Regions from separate parts of the Homo sapiens genome. Here all the other regions are reported to be linked to region 1. The links are microRNA targets in miRTarBase. Many come from high-throughput screens and were not tested one by one. Region 1 holds a microRNA gene; each other region holds the end of a gene's coding sequence.
What was found. Region 1 holds the annotated microRNA hsa-miR-603 (CACACACUGCAAUUACUUUUGC, at 4,178-4,199, shown strand). A microRNA usually pairs through its seed, bases 2 to 8, with sites in the 3' UTR of a target mRNA and lowers its output. Matches are read on the target gene's strand: a 7mer-m8 pairs with bases 2 to 8, a 7mer-A1 pairs with bases 2 to 7 and ends in A, and an 8mer does both.

Region 1 (7,125 bases):
TGGCAAAACCCCATCTCTGCAAAAAATTATAATAATTAGCCAGGCGTGGTGGCATGTACTTGTAGTCCCAGGTACTGGAGAGGCTGAGGTGGAAGGATCACCTGAGCCTGGGGAGGTTGAGGCTGCAGTGTGTCGAGATTGTGCCACTGCACTTCAGCCTGGGTGACAGAGTGAGACCCTGTCTTAAAAAAAAAAAAGAGTGAGAATAATGAAACTGTGCACACGCAGGCCTTTTAATAAACTTTCCCCCTGTACGCAGCCCATTCTAGCTATATATATTTCTTGGTCCCAGCCTCTTCAAATAAAAATTGTTTTATTCAAAAGTATGACCTAGCCTTATACAAGATAAGATAGCCCACTTAAAAGTGGCATAAAAGGCCACTTTTATGCATCTCCATTTTAGGTTGGTTACAAGAGGCACAGAGAGACCAAAGCCCATGGGATGCTCGTGAGAGTAGGAAATTGGGTGGGAAGGGTGGACTCGGGAGACAACCTGACATCTCTCTACTTGAAGCCTAGCAATAAGGTTCAAAGGTTCCTCATGCCTTGTTTTCCCTTCTCTCTACATGATTAAGATCCCATTCCTGTAACAGATAGCAATGTGTTTATGCAGTAAAATTAGATAAGGGAGATTACTAGGGAAGTCACTACTCAGTTAGGGATGTCAGTGGTGCTCACTGCAGGTCCAGGTTAGTAATAAGAACTCTGGACTAGTAGCTAGGAGTGCTTGAATCTAGATTAGTTCTACTTTCTAACTCGATGTGTGACATTTTTTCCACTTAATTTTTTTGGCCTTGGTTATCTTATTGGAAAAAATATTCAAGTTGCACAAATAACTAAATGATGCCTGAGTTTTCATTCAGTTCTAAAACTTCTCAACTGAGCAATCTGTTGTTGAAAGGAGAGTACGAGTTCTAAAAGCTACTCTAGGGAGCTCTGCATTCACCAAGCCGCTCCATCATTGTTGGGAAGAAAATACTAAGGTTGACTCATTGTCAAAGCCACATTCTACTCAAACTCAATGTACATAACTCGAATTCTAGCCACATTCCAGCCAAATTGAGATAGCTGTTCAAATAGTCATGGATTTATTTAATAACTGACTTCGAAATTCTTTACTTCTTTCAAGGTGGCATTAACAAGTATTTCGGAATTTCAACAGAGATCGGTTTTCACGTGCTCTTCAATGATCCCTGTGAAATAAATCATATTCAAGGGTTTTTTTCCCCTTATGAGTTATTCGCCTGAAGGAAGAATTCTTCATTTCTTTTTCTTTTAAATGCATGTTGGAATAAAGTCTTCTTTGAAAAGTCTTAATGAAAAGAGCAAACGTGGAATAGCATCCACCCCAGTTCTTTCTCTGGTCCTTGCACTCTGAGAATGAAGTCTTAGACAGCAGAATGTCAGGGGACTCTCATTGCGTAAAAGTCTGTGCCCTTCTGCGCCTTGGACAGTTATGGACAGAAGCCTTTAAGAAGAAGAAAATTAAAACTAGTTAATTTTTTAGTTAATTTTAGCAACACTACATATATGAGAGAGAGAAAAGATGGCATTTTCTGAATGAATGAGATGCCTCTGCATTTTGCCCAACTCATTGGAGACTCAGGATAGAGAAAAGGGAGAAATTATGTTTAGAGGCTGATAAATTTCCCTATGGTTACTATCAAGAGATCAGACTCTTATTAACATTTGCAAAGTGTGAGCAGAGAAGAGCATTTGAACAATAAGCATAGATTAAGTACTCCTCTTTCCTTCATTCCCTTTTCTCTAGTCATATTCTCAGACAGTCCAGGCTAAGTATTAATGATCTTCTTTGAAGTTAAACATACCCTTGCTACTTTCATTACATTATTATTTTTATGTTCTTCCTTTTGGAGTACTCAAGGTAAATGACATGGCAGAATCTGTCCCAGTCCAGTGAGGGTGTCACATAAGAGGCCCTTGGCTTACCTCTATGCATAACTGGCCCACGTCACATCTTTAATTAGAAGTCCAAGTTATTGGCTGGACGCCATGGCTCATGCCTGTAATCCAAGCACTTTGGGAGGCCAAGGTGGGTGGATCACCTGAGGTCAGGAGTTCGAGACCAGCCTGGCCAACATAGTGAAACCCTGTCTCTACTAAAAATGCAAATATCAGCCGGGTGTGGTGGCACATGCCTGTAATCACAGCTACTCGGGAGGCTTGAGGCTGGAGAATCGCCTGAGCACACGAGATGGAGGTTGCAGTGAGCCGAGATCGTGCCACTGTGTTCTAGCCTGGGCGACAGAACAAGACTCTGTCTCAAAAAAAAAAAAAAAGTCCAAGTTACTGTTGCAGGGATTGGGACATCTTGCCTTTCTCAAGTTGAGCAATATTCCCAAATATAAAAATGTAGGATCTTAGTCCAATCAGAGCAGATATTTGGTGTAGGGCATTTTCTAATGTAGTACCAATAAATTAGACGCATACCTCAACCAAAAAACAGCCCATATCCAGTAAGTAATAAGGCAATGATTTACATTTCACATATTACCAGAGTAATGACTAATAGCATACATGTATAAACTGAAAAGTGACTGATGCTTATTTTCAGATGGGTCCAAATTTATTGGATAATTATGGAGAATAATGTATGTTTTCTGAGAGTTGGTAGTAAGAAAATATTGCCATTGCTGGCCAGGCACAATGGCTCACACCTATAATCCCAGCATTTTGGGAGACTTGAGGTCAGGAGTTCATGACCAGCCACCTCAGCCTCCCAAGTAACTAGAACTACTGGTGCATGCCACCAAGTCCAGCTAATTTTTTTTTTTTTTTGAGACGGAATATTGCTCTGTCACCCAGATTGGCTGTGTTCTCCATTCTAAGTCCAGTGGTTAGAAATTGTCAAGTTCTCACATCTGCAAAAAAAGTAAAAAAGATGAACCTGCTACATCTAAATATACTTTGTTGTCTTCCTACAAGTCCTATTTTACATACTTATGGCATTTTTACTGCAGTTTGAAAATACAGTCAATTCTTGTTATTCACAGTATTGATGTTCTATAAACTTGCCCTAAATACTGCATTAGTGAGTCCTGAATTTATTAGTTAATACTGAATTTCCTAGGGGAAATACAGGGTTAGGTTCCTGTGAGTCTTTGGTTACCTTTTTATCAACCAATCAACAAAAATCCTTATTTTACCTGTGTTTTTGTTTGAAGACACCTTTTAAAATATATATTATTGATTCATTAGCATTGAACTAAGCTTATCTAATGCACTTATTTTTTGTGTAAGGTGTATCACAGCCTTCTTGAGCCTAGGAATGCCAAATAGTACTTCCACACCATACTTAAGGGCCATTTCATTTTATTTCTTATTTTTAAAATTTATTCTCTTTTCTTATTTAAAGAAAAAATTTGTAGATGCCGGGTCTCGCCCTCTTGACCAGGCTGGAGTGCAGTGACACAATCACAACTCACTGGAGCCTCAAACTCCTGGGCTCAAGTGATCTTCCCACCTCAGCCTCCCAAATATCTGGGACTACAGGCACACGCCACCATGCCCAGCTAATTTTTTAATTTTATTTTTTTGTAGAGGCAGGGTCTGGCTATGTTTTTGAGGTCTTAATTCCCCAATGAACATGACTAGTATATTCCAGGCTGGTCTTGAACTCCTGTCACAAAGCAATTCTCTTGCCTTAGCCTCCCAAAGTGCTGGGATTTCAGGCATGAGCCACTGCACCTGGCTTGGACCATTTTAAATAGTGAAGTCACTCACACACACATACACGCATGCAGGTGCACACACAGACACAAAAAGACACAAAAATGCGAAACTTGTGGCACTAAAAAGACTGTGGAAAGGGTGCTTCCTTACAGTATGAAAACTGAAACAAAAAAGCAGAGTGTTGTTTAGTTAGACGCCACCTGGGAACGTGCTTGTTGGGAAACTCCAGTTGTCCACTGTCCTGCCATGTCTATGATGACTGCAAACATTTGGGAGTATTAATTTGAGGGTCACAAACAGATTTTAGGTGATGGGCATATTTACAAATACAGAATCTGCTAGTAATGAGGACTGACTGTATAATGCTTTAGTAGTCTCAAGTATGTTTTTTTTCTCATTAAGCCTTTGCTTAAGATGCAGGCAAGATTGATGCTGTTGGTTTGGTGCAAAAGTAATTGCAGTGCTTCCCATTTAAAAGTAATGGCACACACTGCAATTACTTTTGCTCCAACTTAATACTTGGCTTTATTGACTTTTAGCATCAGTGCAGTTTGGTTAATGATAAAATTTTCCAAAGCAGTGTCTCATCTGCAGGAGCAAACTATAGCAAGGGCCCTGGCCATCAGTTCTCCCTTCTGGTCCTGATATTCCTTTTTAAACTGTCTTTCCATACCCCTCCCTCCAGTGGGCTTGGCGATGTTGCATTAAATAGCAAAGAGAAGGAAACTCCTCCCCAGTCCTCACTGACCATTTCTTTTTCCACTCAGTCCTGCTCAGAATGTAGAAGAGAAGTTGAATTTAATTCATAAATTCAGCAGCTTGAGGACTGTCAGTTTTGTCGTTATTTAGTGAAATAGTAATTGAATTGGGCTACAAGGTCATTGGAATCTGCTGTTTCATTTCATATCATTTTACGTGTTATTATTCTAATAAGAATACAAATGGAGTTTGATGCCATTTGCTGATCATCCATCTTATTGATGCCATTGAACAGAACGCAGAAACACAAAGGGATTTATAAGGCATTTCAGTTTTGATGTCCTTTGAAAAATGAAAGTCTTTTCAGAAATGCAAAAGACAAAATGACTTAGAATTCCATCTCGTTCTGCCCGGTTTGAGGGCATCCCTTCCTATTCCTTAGATAGCTGTTAATAAGAGTCCTGAGGAAAACTGGGTTTGAATTTAAAAACAAAAAATTTTTAAGAGACAGGGTCTCGCTTTGTCACCCAGGCTGGAGTGCAGTGGCACAATCATAGCCCCTGTAACCTTGAAGTCCTGGACTCAAGTGATGCTCCCACCTCAGCCTCCCTAGTAGCTGGAACTACTGGCACATGCCATCAAGTCCAGCTTTTTTTTTTTTTTTTTCTGAGATGGAATCTCACTTTGTCACCGAGGCCGTAGTGCAGTGGCGCGATCTCGGCTCACAGCAACCTCTGTCTCTCAAGTTCAAGTGATTGTCCTGCCTCAGCCTCCTGAGTAGCTGGGACTACAAGCATGTGCTACTACGCCCAGCTAATTTTTGTATTTTTAGTAGAGACAGGGTTTCACCATATTGGCCAGGCTGGTCTGGAACTCCTGACCTTGTGATCCGTCCGCCTCAGCCTCTCAAAGTGCTGGGATTACAGGCATGAGCCACCACACCCAGCCAAGTCCAGCTAATTAAAAAAAAAATAAAAATCGTAGAGATGGGGTCTCCCCGTGTTGCCCAAGCTGGTGTCAAATTCCTGACCTCAAGCAATCCTCCCACCTCGGCCTCCCAAAGCTCTATGATTATAGATGTGAGCTGCCATGCCTGGCCTTAAATTTTTCAAAAGCTTTTAAACCAATCTTAAAATGTTTTATCCTCTTAGAATCATGTCCCTAGTTTTATAGCTTGGAAATTCTTGCTCTTTTCAAATTGCTCTTTAACTCTGGCCTGATTGGAAGGTGGCAGCTTTTCAAATACAGGTCATGGCAGCGCTCAACCTGGATTCCTCAGTTGCAGAAGACTGCTTTTGCTAGACTGCTGAATTTACTTCCAACTTTTCAGATGTTTCTGAGGTTGACCCTGGTGTGGTTCCCACTCAAAGTGGAGCAAGCAGGTGGGTGGCAGGTCTCTTCTTAGCGGCTTCCTAGAGGGAAGCCTCGTGAGTGGGATGGGGGACAGGTTGCCCTGGGGGAGCCCAGGAATGGGGAGACAAGGCCACCTGCTATGCAGATGATATAGTTTGGCTGTGTACCCACCCACTTCTCATCTTGAATTGTAGTTCCCATAATCCCCACATGTTGTGGGAGGAACCTGGTGGGAGGTAATTGAATCATGGGGGCGGTTTTCCCCATGCTATTTTCATAATAGTGAGTGAGTTCTCATGAAAGCTGATGGTTTTATAAGGGGCTTTCCCTTTCACTGGGCACTCATTCTTCTCCTTGCTGCTGCCATGTGAAGAAGGACGTGTTTGCTTCCCCTTCAACCATGATTGTAAGTTTCCTGAGGCCTCCCCAGCCCTGCAGAACTGTGAGTCAATTAAACCTCTTTCCTTTATAAATTACCCAATCTCAGGTTTGTCCTAATCGCAGCATGAGAATGGCCTAATACAGTAGGTTTTCCTGAGTCCTCTCTCTGACTCACCCTCTGACGGGCAAAAGACAGTGGCAGCACTGCCAGCAATCAGCTGGGAACTTCTCCCCTGTGATAGAAAGCAGTGCTTGCTGGCTTCCCTTTGTGATGCTTTTGGACAGCAGCTCTATGGACCTATGCCTTTTGTCCTTTGAGGACGGACGCACAGTCTGTGCAGCTCGAGGACGCCGTCATGGGTGAGATGCTGTGGAGTGTGATGACGCCACCTCTTAGGCTGTGTGTGAAAGTAGCGAGGAGAGGCAGGGTCTGCATGAGCCACTTTGGAGCAGGCCAAAACACTGTGGAGAAGCACATTACAGCCACAGTGGCGGTGTAAAGGGTCAGACTGACCACTGGCTTCTGGAAAGTCTTCATTTCTGAAAGACTGTCAGGTAGAAGATGGATGAGAGTTACTCTGTGAGGCCGGAAACCTAGAACTCAGACCATTGTGTGCAGACCAGGGAGAGGCAGTGTTTGGAGTGAGATAAGCAGGAATTTTGAAATTACACAGACCCGGTTTTGAATTTACTCATGAGCTGTGTGGCTTAGAGAAAGCTGTTTAATCCCACTGACCTTCATCTGTGAAGTGTCCAAAAATAATACAGAGCTTGCAGAGTTGTGTGGATAAGGGATAATCTATCGAAAGCATGTGGCAAGTGGCAGACACAATGTGGGCACTAGGCAAGTGGCAAGTCCCTTGTATTGAGTCTTATTTGTCTATTCAGTGAATATTTGGATACCAACTCTGCTGTTCTGGGCATGATGTTAGCCACTGGGGAGACAGAAGGAATGAAAGAGATGAGTAACCTAATGTGTGCTGTCTAGTGGGGACTGCA
Region 2 (7,125 bases), not on the chromosome of region 1:
TAGTCACAGGAGAGTGTATACATGGATGAGTGTAGATTTTTAACTAGAGAAATGTATCCCAATGAGTAGATTCATTTGTGCATGTATTCCTGTATCAGACAATAACATTTACTTTAGGAATATCTGGAAAAACATACTGTTCAAGACCAATTTTGGAGGAGAATATAAATGATTATTTATAACCAGTAGGTCAGCAGGCTTTGAAAGATGAACTCTCTCAGTCATGCAAATGCAAATTTGTGATAAGCACAATTAACAAAACAAACATATTGAAAAGTAGCTCATGAGAGATTGAGAACTGGATTTTATCTTCCTTTTTATCTCGAGAGAGACAGTAATCCTAATGGTTGTGAGTTGTTCTAAATGTCTGTAGGTGTTCTGATTTGCAGATAGGTCAGTTTCTCCATGTTATCTGTGACAGTGTAAATCTCCCCCAAAATTATAAGTAATATTTATTATATTGGAACACATTTTTAAGAATTTATACTAAAATGTATCCAAAATTAAATAATTTAATCTTAGTTTACACCTTTAACTGCTGGGTTAAGGTAGGGGCTCCACAAATAGTTTCGAATGAATGGAGTCATTCATATGAGCCTTTAAAAATTAACACAAATGCCTACCAATGATTAGTTTAAAACCACTATCTGTACTTAAAATTTTGTTTCTTCGAATTTATGAAAAATGACAGCTAGCAGCAGGGTAACCTTCTGAGGTAAGGATACAGATGGTTAACGTAATGCCAGTATGTTGTACAGCTCCTGAATTTGCTCTTGTAACAGACATTTCACATGAAGAACAGCATGTATTAAAGATGATTGCTTTATGGCTGGGCGCGGTGGCTCACGCCTGTAATCCCAGCACTTTGGGAGGCTGAGGCAGACGGATCACGAGGTCAGGAGATCGAGACCATCCTGGCTAACACATTGAAACCCTGTCTCTACTAAAAATACAAAAAAATTAGCTGGACGTGGTGGCAGGCACCTGTAGTCCCAGCTACTCGGGAGGCTGAGGCAGGAGAATAGCGTGAACCTGGGAGGCGGAGCTTGCAGTGAGCCGAGATTGTGCCACTGCACTCCAGCCTGGGCGACAGAGCGAGAGTCCGTCTCAAAAAAAAAAAAGATGATTGCTTTGCAAGGGTAAAGAATAGTTCCTACCACTTCCTACCACACAGTATATTACTCATGAACTATTCGTTCTAAACTGCCGGTTCTACTTATTACATAGTAGTGTCAGTGACCAAAGAAATACTGTTTGTGTAAGTTTAATTTTTTCAAGTTAAAACATGTAATATACAGAATACTGGTACGTGGTACTTTATAGCTTTCATGACAAATTTTAAGAGATTACTTCAGCCCTGCATTTTAAGTATAGTAGGTACTTCTGTCCCTGTTCTGTAGGGGAAACTGAGGCTCAGATGTTAAAATGAGCTGGCTAAGGTCACTTAACATCTGATGTACCACTTATTTTTTAATTAGATTTTTCTTCTTCCTGGTAATTTTAATAATTTTACCCACTTGAGTTGTAATATATTTGATTATACACCATAGGTTGTTTCTTCTATTTACTGGCTAAAAAAATGTAAATTTATAAAAAACTCTCACTATCTTGCCCAGGCTGGCCTCCAGTGCTTGGGCCCTTGTCATTTTGGTGGCAAACACTTGTGAATGACTTCCTTTACATGAATGTCTTTGTTCTAAGTTTCCTATTTTCTTTAAACAAAATAATTATATAAAGCCATCTCAGATTACCATAATTTGGAGAAATCTTTATAGCAGTGCAGCTGAATTATGTATTTAATAGATATCACTTTTTTAAAAAATCCTATTTGTGGCATGAAGAACGTTGAATAGAAACATGTCTGTATGTGAGATAAGGAAATAGTTTTAAAGGAAAACCTTAGGATCTAATTATGAAAATACCTGATTAAGCTAGGATTTACAAATGAATTCTGTTGCCATAGTGTAGTTTAAAAATTTTTAGAATAATTATAAGAAAATCAGTAGGAAACTTGCTTGAGGAATAGTTCTTAGTGGGCAGCCTCCCTCCTTTTGCTGTTCCCTATTTTGATAATCTATTTTGATCTTCAAAAATCATGAAAACGGCCCTTAAAGAAATTCTCTTTTAAAAAAATGACAGGGTTACGATTAAGAAATGCTTATTTCAGGAAAGCCAAGGAGGTACTCTTGTAAGTACAAAGCCTGACCCATCATTAACAGTCTTCAAAGCCAGTCCACATTTTAATTTGCTGATGGCATGCACTTCTTGATTTACATAACATGAATAACCAAGTGTTCCAAGCCGTAACCCTTCATTAGACAAAATTTTTTAACATTTCATTTTTGGCATTCTGTTGGAGGTGAGGTGTGGCAGCTGTTTAAAAGAATGTGCGTGGTGGTATGTATGTGTTTGAGAACAAAGAGCCATACTGAAATTACAAAATGATTAAAATACAATTTAGTAACCCAAATTGGAATCTAGCTGGGATTCATGAGGGATTACTATTCTCCCTATACTTTAACAGTGAGCTTTTTTTAACAGAGTATAGGGACTCATACTTTGCCAATGATTAGTAGACTCTCAGCATAAATAGAGGAAAGAGTATTATCCTAAATGTTTACATAGGGTAATAAATAAAAACTACTAAGGTAAAAAGTTCAGTGCTTTACGTAGATAGTAAACTATGCATAGTATTTTATTTGTAACCCCATGTGTTAAGAAGGGACACTGTTAAAGTAACAATCATTTAAAAGTAACAACCAACAAACTGGTATTTAATTTGGTATTTTAAATAGTTAAAAATCAAATGGAAACAGTGTCTAAAGTCACTAAGATAATTCATAACAAAACCCATTAATCCAAGCTCCACTTATTGTAAATAGAATTCACCATGAGCTAACCTAAAATGTACCTGTGGAGATAAAACAAGAGTGTAAGTTAGCAAAGTATTAAATAAAATTTCAGGGAGCCCCTAAATTTATTTTTAAGAACTTTAGAACTAATTCTCTATATGCAAACACTGATTAACTCAAATATCTTGTAAGTTCATTCATACATGGCCTTATTTGAGGCAGTGTATTTGTATTCACTAGCAAAATTCATGTCAGTAAAATATTTTTGAAGCAGTTTATTTCCCAGATATTTCACTAGTTTGAAATAGTCATTTCAGTGATTAGTCTGAATTTCTATTGAAGCCTAAGCTTTGAATGAAGACATGCTTCTGAAAATAAGGCAGTTTTTCTCTAGTCTGCTTATCAATAGAAAACAAATCTTTGGTTTTTAGTTAAAGTGACAGGAAGGATTTTTGCAAAAAGAAAAACTAAAGAACCAAAGCAATTAAAAAGCTCTTGATAAGCAATGGGGAACTCCAAACCCATCAAGGTCAGTAGAGTACCTAAGGCACCTCAGCTTCAGATGTGACAGTCATCTTTGCTTAGAGTTCTGATAATCTATATACATGATTTTTACCATCTTGAGAATGTGAAGCTGAAAAGGTAACATCCAACAATGATTACTGTGAATAAGAAAATTACTGTGATAAATGGGAGAGACGTTGGAGATCTCTGTTCTACCTCCCATATTTATAATGAGGAAACCAAATCCCAGTCAAGAAACAGGTGACACCAGTTTGTGTAGACAAATTCCTAATCTGTTTCTGTTAGGGCAGGGCAAATTCTAGACTTCTAACTTTGAATTAGTAAACCAAGTGTGAAGGGTTTCAGAGATATGAATTGGAGCCCCCTCCCCCCACCAAAAAAAATCCTCATAAATCCCCAAAGGCAAGTTGGAAATGTGTAATAGTTTACTGTTGTAATTCGTTTATACCATGTGTTGGACAACTCAGCTAATATGTTAATTGATTTATACAATTCCTTTCAATTTTATCTAAAAATAAGCAGACCAAAATTAAATAAGAAAGTTACATAAGATTCCATTTGAGCATACATAAGGCCATGATACTTTAATGTGAACCACCATTTCTTGGAAGAAAGAAGACATCCAAATGTCCGATTCAGAGAGAAAGTTCCTGGCCAGTCATCCAGTAGACTCTCTCCACTCTTCAATGGGAAGGTGATGCTTATATTTTTAAAAATCTCTACAAAGCTCACATACAACAAGACAGTACATCCTAGATTTGTGACTGATATGAGCATTTAAGGCTGTCATTTTCAAGTATAAAAGTTTAGTGTTCCATTACCCAATCTGTGCAGTAGACATAGCTATAAGCTCAAGTCATGTGAATTAACAGAAGCCCACCAAAGACATTTAAAAAATTATAATTTGGGCAACAGCAAGTTTAAATGTAGGAAAGGCTAGAAAAAATGTGATGAGATTGTTTCTCTAAAATGCATTAGGTTGTTCACAATGAAGCTTTGTCTAACACCATTATCTGATGCATCCATTATCTGATGCATGGCATATGCAATAAGGCAGATCCACAGCAGACCAAACAAGGAAGCTGAATTAGGTAATAGAACTAGTAATTAAGATGGTTCACCTCTAACACAGTTCTGTGGCCTGTTCCCCCCAGAGAAAGATTAGAAATGGCTCCAGTGTACCAAATAAGCTTCACAGAAGAACATGAAAATTTTCCTCCAACTTTTTTTTCTTTTTTTTTTCAAGCAGAGCCTTTCACTTAGGGACCAACTGCTTGTAGATGAAATAAATCAACATTAATTACTTCTAGCCTGATGTAATATGGCTGGAGAAAAGGGGTCTCTGGAAGCCGGTATTTTGTTTAACTTACATTCTAGGTGTGTATATAAGTTGTCGCTCTATAACTTCTGCTGTGGTTCCAACATCTATATCTGAAAGGTGGAAGCAGCTGCTCTGTTACAATTTTCATGTAACACGCTTGGATTCTAGGTCTTTCCTCTTTAACACAACTTAAAGAAAGTTTCTTGTGGTTTGGTCAGCATACACACTTCTCATTTCATTTGATGTACACAGCCAAAGTGGGAATTAAAAAAAAAAAATTACCAACTAGTTCAGAGAGCTAAATTGAGTCTATCATTATGGCAAAGTCTGACCCAAAATTTTAATTTGTAATTTTAGCATGTGTCTCATGCACTTTGGGGAGCGTCAAACTAAATCTACAATTGCCAGAAGCCTTGTTACAGTTTAATGCACATTAACTAAAATGTGTACATTTTTAGTGTTCATGATAAATGCAGTTATGACCTTATTACACTTTTGGCATTCTTTAAGAAAGCACATTAAGCTTTAATATAGAAATATTTAGGTTACACTTGTGCTCAAGTAATAATAAAACATTTGTTCTTTTTTGATCTCATACATTCTCTCCTCAGGTATGGCCCATCTCCTGTACGCTTGGAGCGACCTTTGGCTACGTGGCTGGCCTTGTTATTTCACCACTCTGGATATACTGGAATAGAAAGCAACTTACATACAAGAACAATTAACTGGAGCAAAGGGAGATATTTCTTTGTGCAGATTCTGTAAGGGCTGGGCAGAAATGTGTATGGTCAAAGCCAAGCAGTTCCATTTACAGCTCTGTTTTTTACGTAGTTACAACATGATGTGATTGTAGCTTTTTAAACTATGAAACCCCTGAGAGATTGTACCTTCTAGTTGAAATAAAGTATTTATAATAGATTGTGGCTTCAGATGCTGCTTACTGCTTCTTAAACCTTTAAGGAACATTCTTAATACACTTTATAGAATTCTGAGGACAGGTTTTGTTTTCTTTCAAGTTTTGAACTGCTTCATTACCTATAAAAGGTCTGGGTATAGCTGTAGCATTTCATTTGCTTTCTGAGAGAAATGGACAGTTTCCTTGGCCACTGAAGATGTTTCTCACGTAATTAAACAACAGTTTATACATCTTGATCCTATTCTTTTTTTTACAGTGTGTTTCTTTGGAGTTAAAATGGCTATGATAGCCTCATCAAAAACAGTCTTCAATCCCTTCTGGGTTAAAGCTGAACATTCCACATAGCAGCATGCTCCTATCTGGGAGGGAGAAAAAAAATCACAAATATATAAGATCATGTTTATACAATTGGCATGACATAAACACATCATTATAAAGAAAATTATAAAATACAGCTATGCAAAAAGAATACATTCATCATCCATGTTCATAACCCCAGAGGGGATTTTAAAATACTAGTATATGTCCTTCCAGACTTTCTATGAAAAATTATTTCACTCACCACATATTTACTGGGTATCTACTATATGTCAAGCACTGTTTAGGTCCTGGGGATATGTCAGTGAACTGAACGAAAGAGCAGAGTCCCTGCTGTGTGGCGTCCACATGTGCTGACATCTGCTGGGTAAGAGGCACAGGGGAGGGAATACAGAGCAGATGGTTGCAAATGCTGTGGGGAAAAAGCAGAGTGAGGGAGGCGGGGAGTGCTGAGGACAATGGTAGTGGGGGTCCGGGGAGGCTTCTCAATGGGGAAGTTTGAGCAGTGAGGGATACCTAGGGGAAGAGCTCCAGGCAGATAGATCCTGATGCAGGAGCATGCCTGGAGCAGTCAAGGAACAAGATCACACTGAGGATGTGGTATTTGAGCAGAGACCTGAAAAGAGTGAAAGAATGAATCATGTCCATAGGGAAGAACATTCCAGGCAGAGGGAACAACAAAAGTACAAAGGTTCTCAGGTAGAACTTTGAGGGAACAACAAAGGAGACCAGGAGGCCTGGGGAACAATGAGTAAGGCAGAGAGGGAACAGAGGCTTGTAGGCCACTGTGCGGACTTTGGCGTTTAGTCTGAGCTGGGGACCCACTGGAGGATTCTGAGCAGAGCAGTGACATGATTGCGCTTACATTTTTAAGACTTACTCTGGCTGCTGTGTTGAGAACAGATGACCATGGGGCATAGACAGAAGCAGAAAGGTGAGTTGGAAGCTATTCCAGTAAAGCAGGCCAGAGATGGAGGAGGTCTGAACCAGGTGATAGAGGGAAGAGTTAGAAAAAAGTGTCTGGATTCTGGATATGTTCTGAAGGTATGTTGTGCCGAAGGCTAGATGTGTGGTATGGGAGAAAGAGCAAGGTCAAGTACGACTTCAGGGCTTTTTTTTTTTTTTGAGACAGTTTCACTCTTGTTGCCCAGGCTGGAGTACTATGGTTCGATCTTGGCTCATCACAACCTCTG
Region 3 (7,103 bases), not on the chromosome of region 1:
CTTATAGAGCCTATTTCCAAGAATTTTCTATAAATTCATTTAAAAGCTATCATTAGTCAACAGGCTGCTTCTGACTACAGGCAAGACTGCAGGGAAAACCTTTTCCTACGGGGAAGGGACCCAGATGTATACTTAATAGTTGTGTCTTGGACCTGTTACTAAGTGAAGATTGTTCTAGGAAAGTAGGCCTGGACTGAGGTATTAGATTTCTAATCAACAGGCTGGTCTCATTCAGAGTTTGAACCAGCACTCTGGGGGAGAAACCACTTGTGGCCGTTGAATTACTCTGGCTAGCCTGTCTCAGAAAGACCATCCACAGCCAGGGCTAATGAGACAGTTGAAGAAAGAGAAATACTTTACCTGAGGGTTTTGGTTTTTTTTTGGCTTTTATTTTTGTGTGTGTGGATTACCACCATATAGCTCACCATGTTATCCCAGAAAGACTACAATTTCATACAGAATGCACAGATGTTTAAATAAAAAGCCATTTAAGTGAGGGGATAATTCTCACTAAAAAAAGCTCAAAAATAAGAAATGACAATTCTAGATACACTTTTTTGACATGTAAAATGACATAACCATAGTCACAGGGAATAAAGAATCAGGTTTGAATGTCCACAGGTTTCTAAAACTAAGCTCTGGCTTCGTATCTGTTGAAAATCTTTAGCGGTTGGGGAAAATAGCTATATTTAAAAACAAATATTGAATTTTGAGTTGAAAGGTACATTTTCCTCCCTTGATGGAGACAGAACTTTTCTATGGAGAACCCAAGCAGCCTTTCCATGATCTTACTAAGTTGTCCAAGAGCCAACCCCGATCAGCAGCAACAGGACTCAAGCTGTTCACCCTGCTTTCGAGTTGGCTGAGCTTCCTGCTGCTTTCACACATTCTTCTTTTTCTACCTCAGTTCCTCTTTGCTTGTAGTCTTTCACTCCATTAACTTGCCCAAGCACTGGACTTAAGTATGGAAGAGCCTATACGCAGTTGTAATATATTTCGTATTTTGAAAGTGTAGAAGTTTGTATTAATTTAAAAAGAAAAAGCTTAAATGGAAAGTTAAGCAATCCTGAACAAGAAAACTCTCTCACTGCCTTTGGGCTAGAGAAAGAGTATGCTCTCAAGGAGTTACATAATCTTTTCCAAAGCAGGATGGACTGTATCTATCATACACATTAGGATAAGATGAGCCACCACACCTTAAAGAAATCAGGCTTGAGCCTATACAAGCCATAACCAAATAGAAGATTTTAAACAAAGGAGCACATAGCCCAAAGCTGACATGTTATTTCTATAAACTCTGGTATATATGTGAAGGAGTTACTGTTGGCTGGCTTGTGGGTTTTTTGACTCACTACATTTTTTTAGACAAAATCACAATGTGAAGGCACATTAATAGTTGAGATTTTCTTTTCCTTCCAGGTGGACTTGCTGACTGATTAGTTTCATATACTACTTAGTAACCTCAAGAAGTAGCAGGAGGATGCCATGTATCAATCTTGAACTTCAAGTCTCACTGCAACAAGGATGGAGACTCCAGCAGAGTGCAGGGTGGGCACAGACAGGCCACAAGATGGCGCAGCACCTCCATACTTGGGCTCTTGACAACCAAGTAGGTTTTTTTTTTTTTTTTTTTTTTTAATGTCCACTAGGAGGGAGGATGCTACGATTTCAGACCTCAGCTATTAAATAGTAAATCTGGAAAACTAGTGGATAAATTTGCCATCTCCATTCTATGTTATTAAGACCAAGATAGTGTACTGGTTTTCTTTTAAATCACATTCCATTATGTCATTTAAAATGTCACAAAACCCACACGAAGCATCTCATTTACACTAAGATGCTTATTTAGCTAACACCACTAATGATAAATGCTGTTACAAATATGCATAGTCAGATGATAGTAACCACATACAGAAAAAAAATTTGAACAAGTATTTATTTCTTAAAATTTACTTAAGGGATTAGAGCTAATATATAATAGAACATTTAATATAACATTTGGAGTTATGTCAACATAAAAATAGCTGTGGTTACAATTAGCACATGCAATTCACTGCAAAGGTAAAAATACATGCTATACTCTAGACAAGCCTTCCAAATGAAGTTAGAGTAGATGGGGTAAAACAGCAAGTGAACATGAAAGGATTGCACTTAGAAGAAAGTGGGACATAGCTAGGATATAAAAGAAACATACCTAATGCTAGTCAGTCACTGCATTGTCCTACTAGCAAATTGCACATTTATTTTTAGAGTATATTCAATACACATACATATTGAGACTAGAGAATTTTCAAATATCTACCTTTGAAATATCCCTTTGTTTCTAACACATCACATTATGGTATTAATGTAACAGCACTTAAAACCTGTAGTTATCATTCAAAGCTTGTGTTCAAGAGATAAAAGAACATCATTCAGACAAAGCCTGTGTTCAAGAAATAAAAAAAACATCTATCACTATCGGCCTTAAATGCATCTCATCACACGACCCATCAACTTTAATGAAATGGGTAATGAAGTTAAACTAACCAGTTTGTACAAACTATTGACTGAGAAAAAGCCCTTAAAAATTTAGGAACAAATGAGCAACAGAAGAGCTCACCCTGAGCTGCCACCTTTTAATTTTTAATGCAATGTATATGAGAATATCATGCTAATGCACATACTAGTAGCATGTATGATGGAAAAAAATAGGTTAATGCAAAAGATAATACGCTTGGCTTTGTAAAGTTTTGTTTTGACTTACATCATCTGAATTCTGTTTATCGAGTCTGAAAAGGAACTGCTGCCAAGGACCAGTCCAAAGAAGAATTAGGCTGTAAGACTGCTAGTTCATACCTTCTTTGAAATCAATGACAATGTCCAATTTTAGGCTAATCCTAAAACACTTGCCATTTTATGACTCCATATTCTTTTAATTTACAGAAAAGTACAAATTTTTTAGAAAGTAATCTTATCAGCACAATATAATCTAACAATACCTGTAATAGAAAGCTATCCCAGTAAATTTTTTTTGAACAATTGAACTTTTGTCTTATGCAGCTTATAACTTTGTTATTTTATTCATCTCAACAAAATAAAACTTTATTGAAACAAAAGTGTATGGTTTAGGAATATGCTCTTAATAACAACTGAGCAAAATTAGAATGATGTGGACTATAACAGAATGAAGGAAGATCTCTCCTGCTTGATGTACTTGGTCAATATATGTTAGTAAACAGAAATATTTTAGGGAATTCTATGATTATTCTACTTCTACATTTACATGTCATGGTTTTAACTAGTTAAATGGGTAGAAAAAAGACATCTTTAATAATTGATTTCTATTTCTCAAACTAGATGCTCTACTTTAAATATGAGCTTTAATGAATGTTTTGTAACATTTTAAAGTTGTAACATTTCTAAGTATACTCCACTAACTTCACAATAAGAGCTAGGGTCACTGGATGACTTCATGTGGTAAAATCCCTTATCAAGGAATAAGGCTGAAATTTAAATGAACAATTAGGTAGAGAAGAGGTATGAACACAGAACATGTGAATGAAATTTGCTTTTTTTCCTTGCTGCTGTTCCCGAGTGCCGACTGATCCATAGTAAAAAAGGACAAGATTAAAATTTTAGGTTTTAATGGTACAAAGTGTGAAGTTTTATAGTTTTCTAATAATTATTCAGTATTATCCCTTTCAGAGATGAGGGTAGGATACCACAGACATCAGTAACTGACAAGTTATAATATCAACACATGTAACATTTGGGTCATTATTTTATAACCCTAAAGGGAGCAACTGCAGGTGCAGAAGCAGTGAGTGAACTAGTTTTGTCCAGACAAGGTTTTCTGATGTGCTATTACTTTAAACACCACTTTTGGACACTAAAGATTTAAAGTGATAAAGCCACTAACTAACTTTATTAGACTAGTTTTTACATAAATAACCAGATTTCTTTGCCTACCTAAAGTACAATTTACATGCATCAACACATAGATTATTCTAAGACATGCTTGGGAAAGTAATTTTGAATGTAAAAAGTTTTATAATTTATTTTCTCCTTAGGGCAGGTGTACATTACATATTAGTGCTCAAATATATGTTCATTTCCAGAATGAATTTTTGCACAGTAATCATATATCCATTTAATATGTATAAAGTGTTCTTGGGGATGGGGGTATATTCACTCACTGTACCATGTTTTATACAGGCTTCAACATGCAAATTTGTTTATATCATGGCCTTCAATGATCCTCCATTCTCATTCCTGTAGATTAAGAGTTCATATTGTATATCTGACCCTGAAATGTACAAACTTCACACTACAACATTCTTCATGACACTATTTGTTATGAGGAAAGTTGCAGCTAAATATTAGTCATGTGACTTAAATTTTGAGAAAATGGAAAATGTAATAGGTATAAATTTCCTGACACATACAGCAAGACAAATCCAGCCCAGCCTTTGATGATCAACTTAAAAGCTGGAGATGTCATTATCTTGTTGTGTAAATTTGGGTCTATCCCTACCTTTACTTCTCTGTGCCTGATTTTCCTCATCTACTTTGAATTCGTCATTCTATTAATCTACTTTTGCCTAAAGTGGGAAACTGAATATATCAGAATGAAACATCTATTTTTTTCATAAAGAAGATCATATAATATGTGAAAGAACTTTGAAAGGATGAGGCATTATATAAATGCAAGAATATAAAAGATAAACAGGAAGTCTAATGTGAACAATATTCTGAGAGTAAAAAGTGTAATTATATTTCCATTGTAAATGTATACCAAGTTTTCTTAGCTTTCTATTCTCCAATAACCTCTAGAAACTATTCTAAGCATGCCTGGTTTCTGTAACTTAAATATGGCATAAAAACCTGTTTCCTTTGAATTCACTTGATAGCAGTAGTCAATCACTAATAACGCTTGCTAATTTCCTCTTACTTTCTAAGAAAACCCCTATATTTAGCATCTGCTTCCATATCGCACGTGGTGGTTAGGGGACAGCATAAGTACACTAGCGGCTTTAGCACTAAACTCGAGGCCTGGGTCACTTCTCCCTTGAAGAAAAAAGGTTTTAAAAATTCCTAAATCACAATGTAGAACTAAGTTCCACCCTACCTCAGAACTGCAGACATTAAAATACCATCTCTTTATTAAGTGTCTCTACAATAATGATATTTGCTAAGAACAAGATGTACATTTTTTGGGGTTCTGTTTTGTTTTGGCAAATATTGCCCAAGTTGTCTTAGTGTGCCTCAAACATTTACTAAAAATAAAAAAATTTAAATCTTTGCCTACTTATTTAAAAATAAAAAAAATACTCAAAACAAATTTAAGCTGAAGATATATACTGTATAAAGTGTTCATCTACCCAGTACTCTGAAGTCTTAAGAAAAGTCAATGATATGTGTGTGTATATATATATATATATATACACACATTAGCAATTTAAGCCTTTTAACATGCCAATTTTTTAGATGCTTTATTGGTTTTTTTTCCCCTTTACTACTACTTCCTGTTTTCCCCTTTACTACTACAATTTAAGCCTTTAAAAATGGCAATTTTTTAGATGCTTGAGATAGTTTGGGGGATCCCTAGCTCTTATCATGGCACTCTGTTGAGTTTGTGAAATGCATCTTCAAAGAGGTTGTCAATAATATGCAAATTTTTGAAAACTAGTGAGATTACTAATTATTGATGAATAAAAAATGAGTACTTTTAATCTGCCAAGTTAAAGCTCTAGAATTCCTTTTCTCCAGTAATAACTCGCAGCATCACTACCAATGGAAGGGACCTAAGGAATACCGTGTACACTGATATACACGAAGCTGCTCCTCATTTTTTTGTCAGATTACAAAAGCTGGGCTCATGTAGTTATGGCCTATGGACCTCTTTTTAAGTTATTTTAGCAGAAGTAGATGATGGTCTACACCTTGCTCCTCTTTTATATTAACTGTCCCTAAGCCACTCTGATGACTATTCTAATCAAAATCAGTATAGCTGTGCTCACTAAGCATATCACTGCTTATTATTCAAATACCTTCTGTTTTCTATGTAGCAAAACAAAAAGTTTTATAAATTTCAGATAAGCTTTCTGTTTTTCTTCAGTGCAAACATCCTGAAACAGCACAAAATCATTCAGCTAGTCTGAGGATAAAGTCAGTTTATGTAGTGCTTAAAGTAGAATCCCAGATATTCTGGAATGGAAATAGCTCATGTGAAACTTCAGTTCATTTTTGTCCTTAAGGGCAAATGATCATCTTCAGAGAGTGAAGACTTTTTAAAATCTGAATTCACAGATAAAATCATTTTAGCTTTACTTTATAGGTACTGCTGAAGTTGTAGCAGGAACTACTAGTCCTTCACTGAGGCATGTAGCCGCCTTGCCGTACAGTCTGTGGTAAGTAACTTTTAGGCATGCCTTCATCAGTCGCAGCCTCCATGCCAACTGTTTCAAATCTTTCTACTTGTCCCTCAGTACCTGGACCAAAAGCATCTGCTGCAGAAACTTCCTGAAACATTTTCATTTGCCCAGATCCACAGGATTGTGAAATATGATCTGAAATCTGCTGTTTAAGTCTAACAAAATCTTCCTCATTGACTGATGAAACTTGCTTTGACCTTTCAAAATGTGAAATATCTGGACTGGATTCATGCTGACTGCAGTTCTGTTTGAAGTACTGTTGCCTGGGCAAAATACCATCACCGCCATCTACATGATCTACTAATTGTAGATCTTCTGGCCGCTCCTCTGAATCTAACAAGGGCTGGGTAGACTCGGATCTTGAGAAGACTTGGACTGACGGAACTTGGTGTCTGTAGCCACTGTGTACCACGGTAGAATACTGGACAGTGCTCGAAGTGTTTTGTGAAGATTCATTTTCATCACTGCTAGAAATGCTTGGCCTAGAAGATGACATGCATGAAGACCCCCCAATACCACTGCTGTGTCCTTCAGTATTAATTTTTTCCTTTTTGAACAGGTCCAATGATTTCAGATCTTCTGGAAAAGGCTTTTTGTCATTTGCTTCTATTTCCACAACACTTACATCAGTGAAATTGCCATCTGAATACATTTGATCTTTTGAATTAAAATTGTGCTAAGGAAGAG
Region 4 (7,125 bases), not on the chromosome of region 1:
TAGATTCTTCACCCGTGAGCCAGCATTTTTATTTCTTTCTACTATATTAGCTACTAGTGTAAATAATGTGCCTGCCTTGGTTTTAAATTTTGTTTTTCAGATATTGGAAGAGGTGCCTGGAGAAATGGATGCTAGAAGAAAACACTGGAAGGAGAATATGTTTACTCCTTTTTTTAGTGCACAAGATGTTCTAGAAGAGACTTCTGAGCCTGAATCTTCTTCTGAACAAACGACTGCAGATAGCAGCAAGGGAATGGAAGAAATTTATAATTTGTCCAGTAGAAAGTTTCAGGAAGAAAGTAAATTTAAGAGGAAAAAATATATTTTCCAACTAAATGAAATAGAACAAGAACAAAATTTAAGAGAGAACAAGAGAAACATTTCAAAGAATGAAACAGACACAAATTCTGCATCCTATGAATCATCTAATGTGGATGTTACAACAGAAGAAAGCTTTAACAGCACAGAAGATAACTCTACCTGCAGTACAGATAACTTACCAGCTCTACTAAGACAAGACATAAGAAAGAAATTTATGGAAAGAATGTCTCCAAAACTTTGCCTGAATCTTTTGAATGAAGAACTGGAAGAACTTAATATGAAATACAGAAAAATAGAAGAGGAATTTGAAAATGCTGAAAAAGAACTTTTGCACTACAAAAAAGAAATATTCACAAAACCCCTAAATTTTCAAGAAACAGAGACGGATGCTTCAAAAAGTGACTATGAACTTCAAGCTTTAAGAAATGACCTGTCTGAAAAAGCAACAAATGTAAAAAACTTAAGTGAACAGCTCCAGCAAGCCAAAGAAGTCATCCACAAATTGAACCTAGAGAACAGAAATTTAAAAGAAGCTGTTAGGAAGTTAAAGCATCAAACCGAGGTTGGAAATGTGCTCCTAAAAGAAGAAATGAAATCATATTATGAATTAGAAATGGCAAAGATCCGCGGAGAGCTCAGTGTCATCAAGAATGAACTGAGAACTGAGAAGACCCTACAAGCAAGAAATAACAGAGCCTTGGAGTTGCTTAGAAAATACTATGCTTCTTCAATGGTAACATCATCAAGTATCCTTGACCACTTTACTGGGGATTTTTTTTAAAACTTAAAAAAATCCTTCCAGTAGGCAAGTCATTGAGCCAAATCAGTGTTTATTGTATTTTCTTTGCGTATTACTTAAAATATATGTAATAGGATGTTATTTTCATTTTCAGTAAATCACAGTATCTATAAAACATATACATGTTTCCAAGCTTCTGCTTTCTCTTTCTGATGAAGTTATTGCAGGAATACAAATGGAAACGAAGCTTTGGAAATCTCATATCAGAGTGTGTGTGTGTGTGTGTGTGTGTGTGTGTACACACACACATATATTCACTCAAAAACACATAATGATTCACCAAATCATTTATGAATACAAATCAGCAATTTTGTGATCTCGTAAGCAAATATGTCTTTGGCACGTGAATATTTTTCCATCTGTGTTCATTGATGTTAACAATAAAAATCTTGTTTATGTGTATAAGCCTAACATATGCCTGTGGGTCTTATAACTGCCTGTTCAAACTCAATGGGATACCAAAAATGTATCTGCTTACTTTGGGGGTCTAACTTTAATTCGGTACATATAAACATCTCTGGAAAAAAATGTAGTTTTTTTCTTCCCCCTGCTGTTTTCCCCAGGCTTTCTCCTTTGACCTGGCCACGGTTCCCATAGACTACAAGACGACTTAGAGACATTGCTGTGACCTTTTGCTAGAGCCCTGCTCTTGCCAGCAGTGGCTTTTGTGTTTTCTTATGTTGACCAGTAAGGGGCATTGTTTACACAGTTCTTCCAAAACTCGACCAGGGGAAAATTTCGAAGCTTCCTCCCCGGCTTACATCACAAGTTGGCGGGGACTGTGGTGAAGTTGGATGTCATCTGGATAAACTTTTAGTGAGCTGGCTTGATTTTTACAGTAATCCAGCCCTGTAAGGGCTCCAGGTGATGACAATTTATTTTACACTTATACATGGTAAAAATGTACTGCCTCAATCCTTGGGTGGAAGTGATGGGCCAGTTGACTCTTTACCATTTGTTTGTATCAGTCATCAAGATATCCTGTAATAGGAGCTCTATTTGCATGGTGTTTTAAAGCCTAATAAACCAAATGTAATTGCACACTATGAGGATGAGATACAATTGTTTTAAGGGTTTAGGTGTCTTCCCTGTTGGGAAAATCCCTAGACTGGGAGTCAGGACATTTGGCTTCTAGTACCTGCTCTGCCAGTAACTAGTTAACTTTCTTCCCCTAAAAGTCCTCATCTATAAAACAAGGCAACAGATCTATCATCGAGATTCTGTTCAGTTCTAATGTTCTGTGATTTCACCTCAATGATTTTATTTGCAAGTGTAACTCTACCTGTAAGGAAGTAAAACTCCTATGGCATTGGATGCATTCAATTCTTTTTTTGTTTTGTTTTGTTTGAGACAGAGTCTTGCTCTGTAGCTCAGGCTAGAGTGCAGTGGCGCGATCTCGGCTCACTGCAACCTCCGCCTTCCGGGTTCAAGCGATTCTCCTGCCTTAGCCTCCCGAGTAGCTGGGATTACGGGCGCCTGCCACTACACCCGGCTATTTTTTGTATTTATGTATTTATTTATTTATTTATTTATTTAGTAGAGACAGGGTTTCACCATCTCGGCCAGGCTGGTCTCGAACTCCTGATCTCGTGATCCACCCATCTCTACCTCCCAAAGTACTGGGGTTACAGGCGTGAGCCACCGCACCCGGCCTGGATGCATTCAATTCTAATACTTTGGGGGACCTACTTTGCAGACTCCCTTTGAAAGAAAATATAAGCAGGGTCCTTTATATAGTTTGAACATCTCCAAATACTATGAATAATAAATCAATAGAGGTTGTTTCTCTACCTTTCTCTTGTTTCCTCTTTATTCATTAAGGTTGGGGAAGGCACTGAATGGATACTGACTAAGCTGACCTGGAGGCTGAACAAGTCTTGCCTTGCCTGGGAGGACTGGCGTAAATTGGAAGATGCTAATCTTTGGAGCTCTGTGACTTAGTCCTGATAAACCTAACCCAGGCACTGGCAGCCTGCCTTAAAGGGGGAGATGACTTTCAGGTTTTTAGTGGTCACTGGCTTCCCACCAAGGGTCTAGGTACGAAAGCAAACTAGGAACTCGTTGCCCTATTTTACTTTCTTCTTCATCACCCCCTTATAAGATTGCCCCTTTGTACTTGCCTCATAAGACGCTCATTCCCTGAATGCTAATGTGCAGAGCTGCTTACATGTTTAAAAATTTTACAATGTATTAATTAAGCTACTAGGCTCAATCCTTTCAATATAATTTTTTTTTAAGAGAGAGAGGGGGACAGGTTCTTGCTGTGTTGCCCAGGCTGGACTCAAACTGCTGGGCTCAAGTGATCCTCCCCAGTAGCTTGGGCTGCTGGCATATGCCACCATGTCTGGCTAGTATAATTCCATTTTAATTCCATTTTCTTTTTTTTTTTTTTTTTTTGAGACGGAGCCTAGCTCTGTTGCCAAGGCTGGAGTACAGTGGCACGATCTCAGCTCACTGTACCCTCTGCCTCCCAGGTTCAAGCAATTCTCATGCCTCAGCTTCCTGAGTAGCTGGGATTACAGGCAGCTAATTTTTTTTGTATTTTTATTAGAGATGGGATTTTGCCATGTTGGCCAGGCTGGTCTCAAACTCCTGAGCTCAAGGGATCCGCTCACCTCAGCCTCCCAAAGTGCTGGGATTACAGGCATGAGCCACCATGCCCGGCCTATAATTCTGTTTTCAAAGAGGAACTTTTATTCCAGGAGTATTTCTATGAACCAACCATACATTTAAGGTTTTCAGTGACAATTTGGTTTATCTTGCATGAGTGTGTATGTGTGCTTGGGGGCAGGGAAAGAGTGGTGGAAGGAGGGCCAGAGACATTAAGTGTATGGCTTAGACTAGGTCTAGGGCAGGGGGTGGGGTTTCTATTTCTAGGTTGGAACTAGAATACAGATTCTTGGTGAGACAGCCTGAAATACTAAAACCCAGCAAGGCCTGCCCTGTGGAAAGATCCTATGGAAAGCACAGGTCCAGACACTAACCAGGGAGGTAATATATACAATCACTAACTTCAGAGGGCCAAGGAGAAAGGGGAGCTAAGGTCACAGACCCAACAGTTTGGAATTAGGAAGGGATTGCATCAAAATAAAAGCAGGGCAGGAATAAACTGGGAGAAAGCTGTGCTATTATTCCTCTTCATGGGCAGATGAGCACAGCAGTGGGTTGAACTTGTTTAAGGAACTAGAATCAATATATCATCACTTTACTTTCTAGTATATTAAATGGGAGATCTGGAGGTGTCTTTGTTGTTGTTGTTGTTTTAGAGGTGGGGGCTGGCCTTGTTGCCCGGGCTGGCCTTGTTGCCCAGGCTGGAGTGCAGTGGCACAAATAGCTCACTGCAGCCTGGACCTCCTGGACTCAAGCAATCCTCCCACCTCAGCCTCCTGAGTAATTGAGACTACAGGGGCTTGCTTCCATGCCTGGCTAATTTTTTATATTTTTAGAGACAGGGTCTCACTATGCTGTCCAGGCTGGCTTCAAACTCCTGGCCTCAAGCAATCCTGTGCCTTAGCCTTCTGAAGGAGTGGGATTACACACATGAGCCAGCAGGCTTGGCCCTTGCAGGTGTTTATGTGGTTTTTTTTGTTTTTTTTTTGTGTTTTTTTTTTTAACAGGGATGGCACATCAGGCCACTCATCCCTTTAACTAATCTGTTGGGTAAAATATTTGAAATCAGCAATGCAGTCACACACCATTCATCACCAACTTCTAATCTCTTACTTATTAAGAAGCATGGGCTGTCACAGTTCTCTGGAAATATCTGTTCCACCTTGGTTTAATAATTCAGTTCTATAAACATTTGGTGAGCACTTATTGCCACAGTTCATTCCTTCTAAAACACATTTTTAAAATTTTTGACATTTCCTGAATTTGGGACTCATCTTCAAATTGATGGTATGTCATAGAATAATTGTCAGTGTTTTGTTTTTCTTAGTAATTAATGAAATAATGGTGTATCTTACAATTGATGGAGTTTTAGATTTGATGAAATAAGGTATGTGCTAGGCTGGGGATATGGAAATCAAAGGGTTTATGAATAAGACAAGTCTCTGACCTCAAGGAGCTTACTTATGCAATTAATTAAAACAATGTGGTAAGAGCTATACCACCAATGCTAATATAAAGTGCTGTGGGAGCATAAAGGAGGATCAATTAATTCTGCCTGTGGGACTGGGAAACACTTTGTAAAGGAGGTGACATTTGAGCTGGGCCTTGAAGGATATGAAGGATTTTTCCAGACAAAGCATGGGAGTAGGAGGCAGGGACATTTCTGGAATGTGAATATGGAAGGTTTATTTGGCTTCAAAGAGGACTCAGCAGCAATGAATTAGAGCACTGGTATGTTATGTGTTGCTGATTTTTTTGTTTGTTTGTTGAGACGGAGTCTTGCTCTGTTGCCCAGGCTTGAGTGCAGTGGCACGATACCGGCTCACTGCAACCTCCACCTCCCAGGTTCAAGTGATTTCCTGCTTCATCCTCCCAAGTAGCTGGGATTACAGGCGCCTGCCACCACACCCTGCTAAGTTTTGTATTTTTAGTAGAGACAGGGTTTTGCCACATTGGACAGGCTGATCTCAAACTCCCGACCTCCTCAGGTGATCCACCCGCCTCGGCCTCCCAAAGCGCTGGGATTACAGGCGTGAGCCACCTCGCCCAGCCATGTTGCTGATTTTTAATGTCTCGTTTGAGGTTCTACCCTGAAAACTACTGTGAATTCCAACGTTTTTGGTCATTTGCAGATAGACTGGAGAATGATGTTCTCATGACATAAAGACCAGGTTCCAGATAACAAACTGCAGAAAACCATTTTGCTGATGCTACTCTACCTTTGGATGCTATCATTTTTGTTTTGGAAACAAAAGACCTAGGAGATTTTTATCATAAGCCAAGTCTGCCGTGAGTAGGCTGGTTTCAAGGAGATGTATGAAAGAGAAACATCACAGTTGCTCCTCTCTCCAAAGAAGCATAGAGCATAGAGGTTAAGTGCACAAACTTTGGTTATCCACTTGCTAGCTGTGTGACCTTGGGCAACTTGTGTAATTCTCTGTAGCTCAGTTTCCTCATCTTGTAAGACAGGGTACATAACTAGTGTTTTTGAGAGGTAAGATGAGATCACATACGGTCAATAAATGTCACCCTTGTTATTATCATTATTGCTAATCGACAATGGGAAATTGACCAAATCTATCTGTCTCCTCCCAGCTATTACTCTCACCAAGCTTTTTATACCTATTGTGTTCCCTGGAGAGAATATGATGAACTAATTCGTAATATGTGTATCAATGATGTGTGTATATATTTGGGAAGGTGGAACAAGTTGCAGAGAAGACATGTTGGTTTTATTAGTATATGAAGCCTTAAGGCAAAGTAACAAATCTATTGTGATGGCTCTTCTGGCCTCAGGAAGGATCCTGTAGAGGGCATTTCTTGGGTTAGAGCCTACCCACCCCCCCTCCAATCAGGTCTGTGTTCGATTGGCCCCTGGCTCTAGCAGGCAGAGTACCAGAAGGGGGAAGAAAGCCCTGCTCTAGTGCTCCAGAGGGAAAAAAAACTCATCTAGGAAGAGGGAATGGAGACAAGAGAAGCTATTATAGCATTTTTTATTTCCCCTTGGCACAAGGAGCTGTGCAGCTGGGGACCCACTACTACAGCTGCTCAGATAAAAATAAGTCATTGTCTTGTCCTTTGTACTCATGAGACACTGAAGCTATAGTTATCTATGTATTGTAGGTGTACCCTCCTTTCCATACTGAGTACCAAGGTGATGTCTCCCCTGTTTAGTGGTCAGAGCTACTGTTCACAGAGTCTCTCTGTCCCTCCACCCCACTACCTCTCTCTATGAATGACACCTTTGATCACACTCAACCTTCTGATGATTGCTATGTTTCACTGGGTGCAGGTTGTCATTTCCCAGGAGACTGGGTTTATTCCTGGTTCTATGAGGATGTGTTCTGGGGTATCCTCGAAGCATTACTTTTGCCTTTCAACCCATGCCTGTTGAC

Region 2: miRTarBase lists RHOQ as a target of hsa-miR-603. Seed matches in the 3' UTR shown: 8mer at 4,919-4,926.
Region 3: miRTarBase lists IL6ST as a target of hsa-miR-603. Seed matches in the 3' UTR shown: 7mer-A1 at 5,425-5,431.
Region 4: the mRNA of CCDC160 is a reported target of hsa-miR-603. Seed matches in the 3' UTR shown: 7mer-m8 at 1,328-1,334 and 7mer-A1 at 1,353-1,359.

The regions. Positions count from the first base shown.
Region 1 is chr10:24,271,568-24,278,692 of GRCh38, forward strand. It overlaps MIR603 (microRNA 603), which reads left to right and starts at 4,118; the gene lies at 4,118-4,214. The region is part of intron 2 of KIAA1217; the gene reads left to right.
Region 2 is chr2:46,579,776-46,586,900 of GRCh38, reverse strand. It overlaps RHOQ (ras homolog family member Q), which reads right to left. Exons shown (of 5, transcript NM_012249.4): 5 at 2,213-5,973. The coding sequence ends at 5,818. It overlaps PIGF (phosphatidylinositol glycan anchor biosynthesis class F), which reads left to right. Exons shown (of 6, transcript NM_002643.4): 6 at 5,310-5,964. The coding sequence ends at 5,423. RHOQ-AS1 (RHOQ antisense RNA 1) reads left to right here and starts at 6,663. Exons shown (of 2, transcript NR_104182.1): 1 at 6,663-6,866. RefSeq lists a silencer at 731-914.
Region 3 is chr5:55,934,728-55,941,830 of GRCh38, forward strand. It overlaps IL6ST (interleukin 6 cytokine family signal transducer), which reads right to left. Exons shown (of 17, transcript NM_002184.4): 17 at 368-7,092. The coding sequence ends at 6,355. Among named protein-coding and RNA genes, the nearest start is that of IL6ST, 57 kb to the right of the region's middle.
Region 4 is chrX:134,244,677-134,251,801 of GRCh38, forward strand. It overlaps CCDC160 (coiled-coil domain containing 160), which reads left to right. Exons shown (of 3, transcript NM_001353453.3): 3 at 101-2,166. The coding sequence starts at 125. The coding sequence ends at 1,102. Among named protein-coding and RNA genes, the nearest start is that of CCDC160, 11 kb to the left of the region's middle. RefSeq lists a silencer at 2,612-2,811.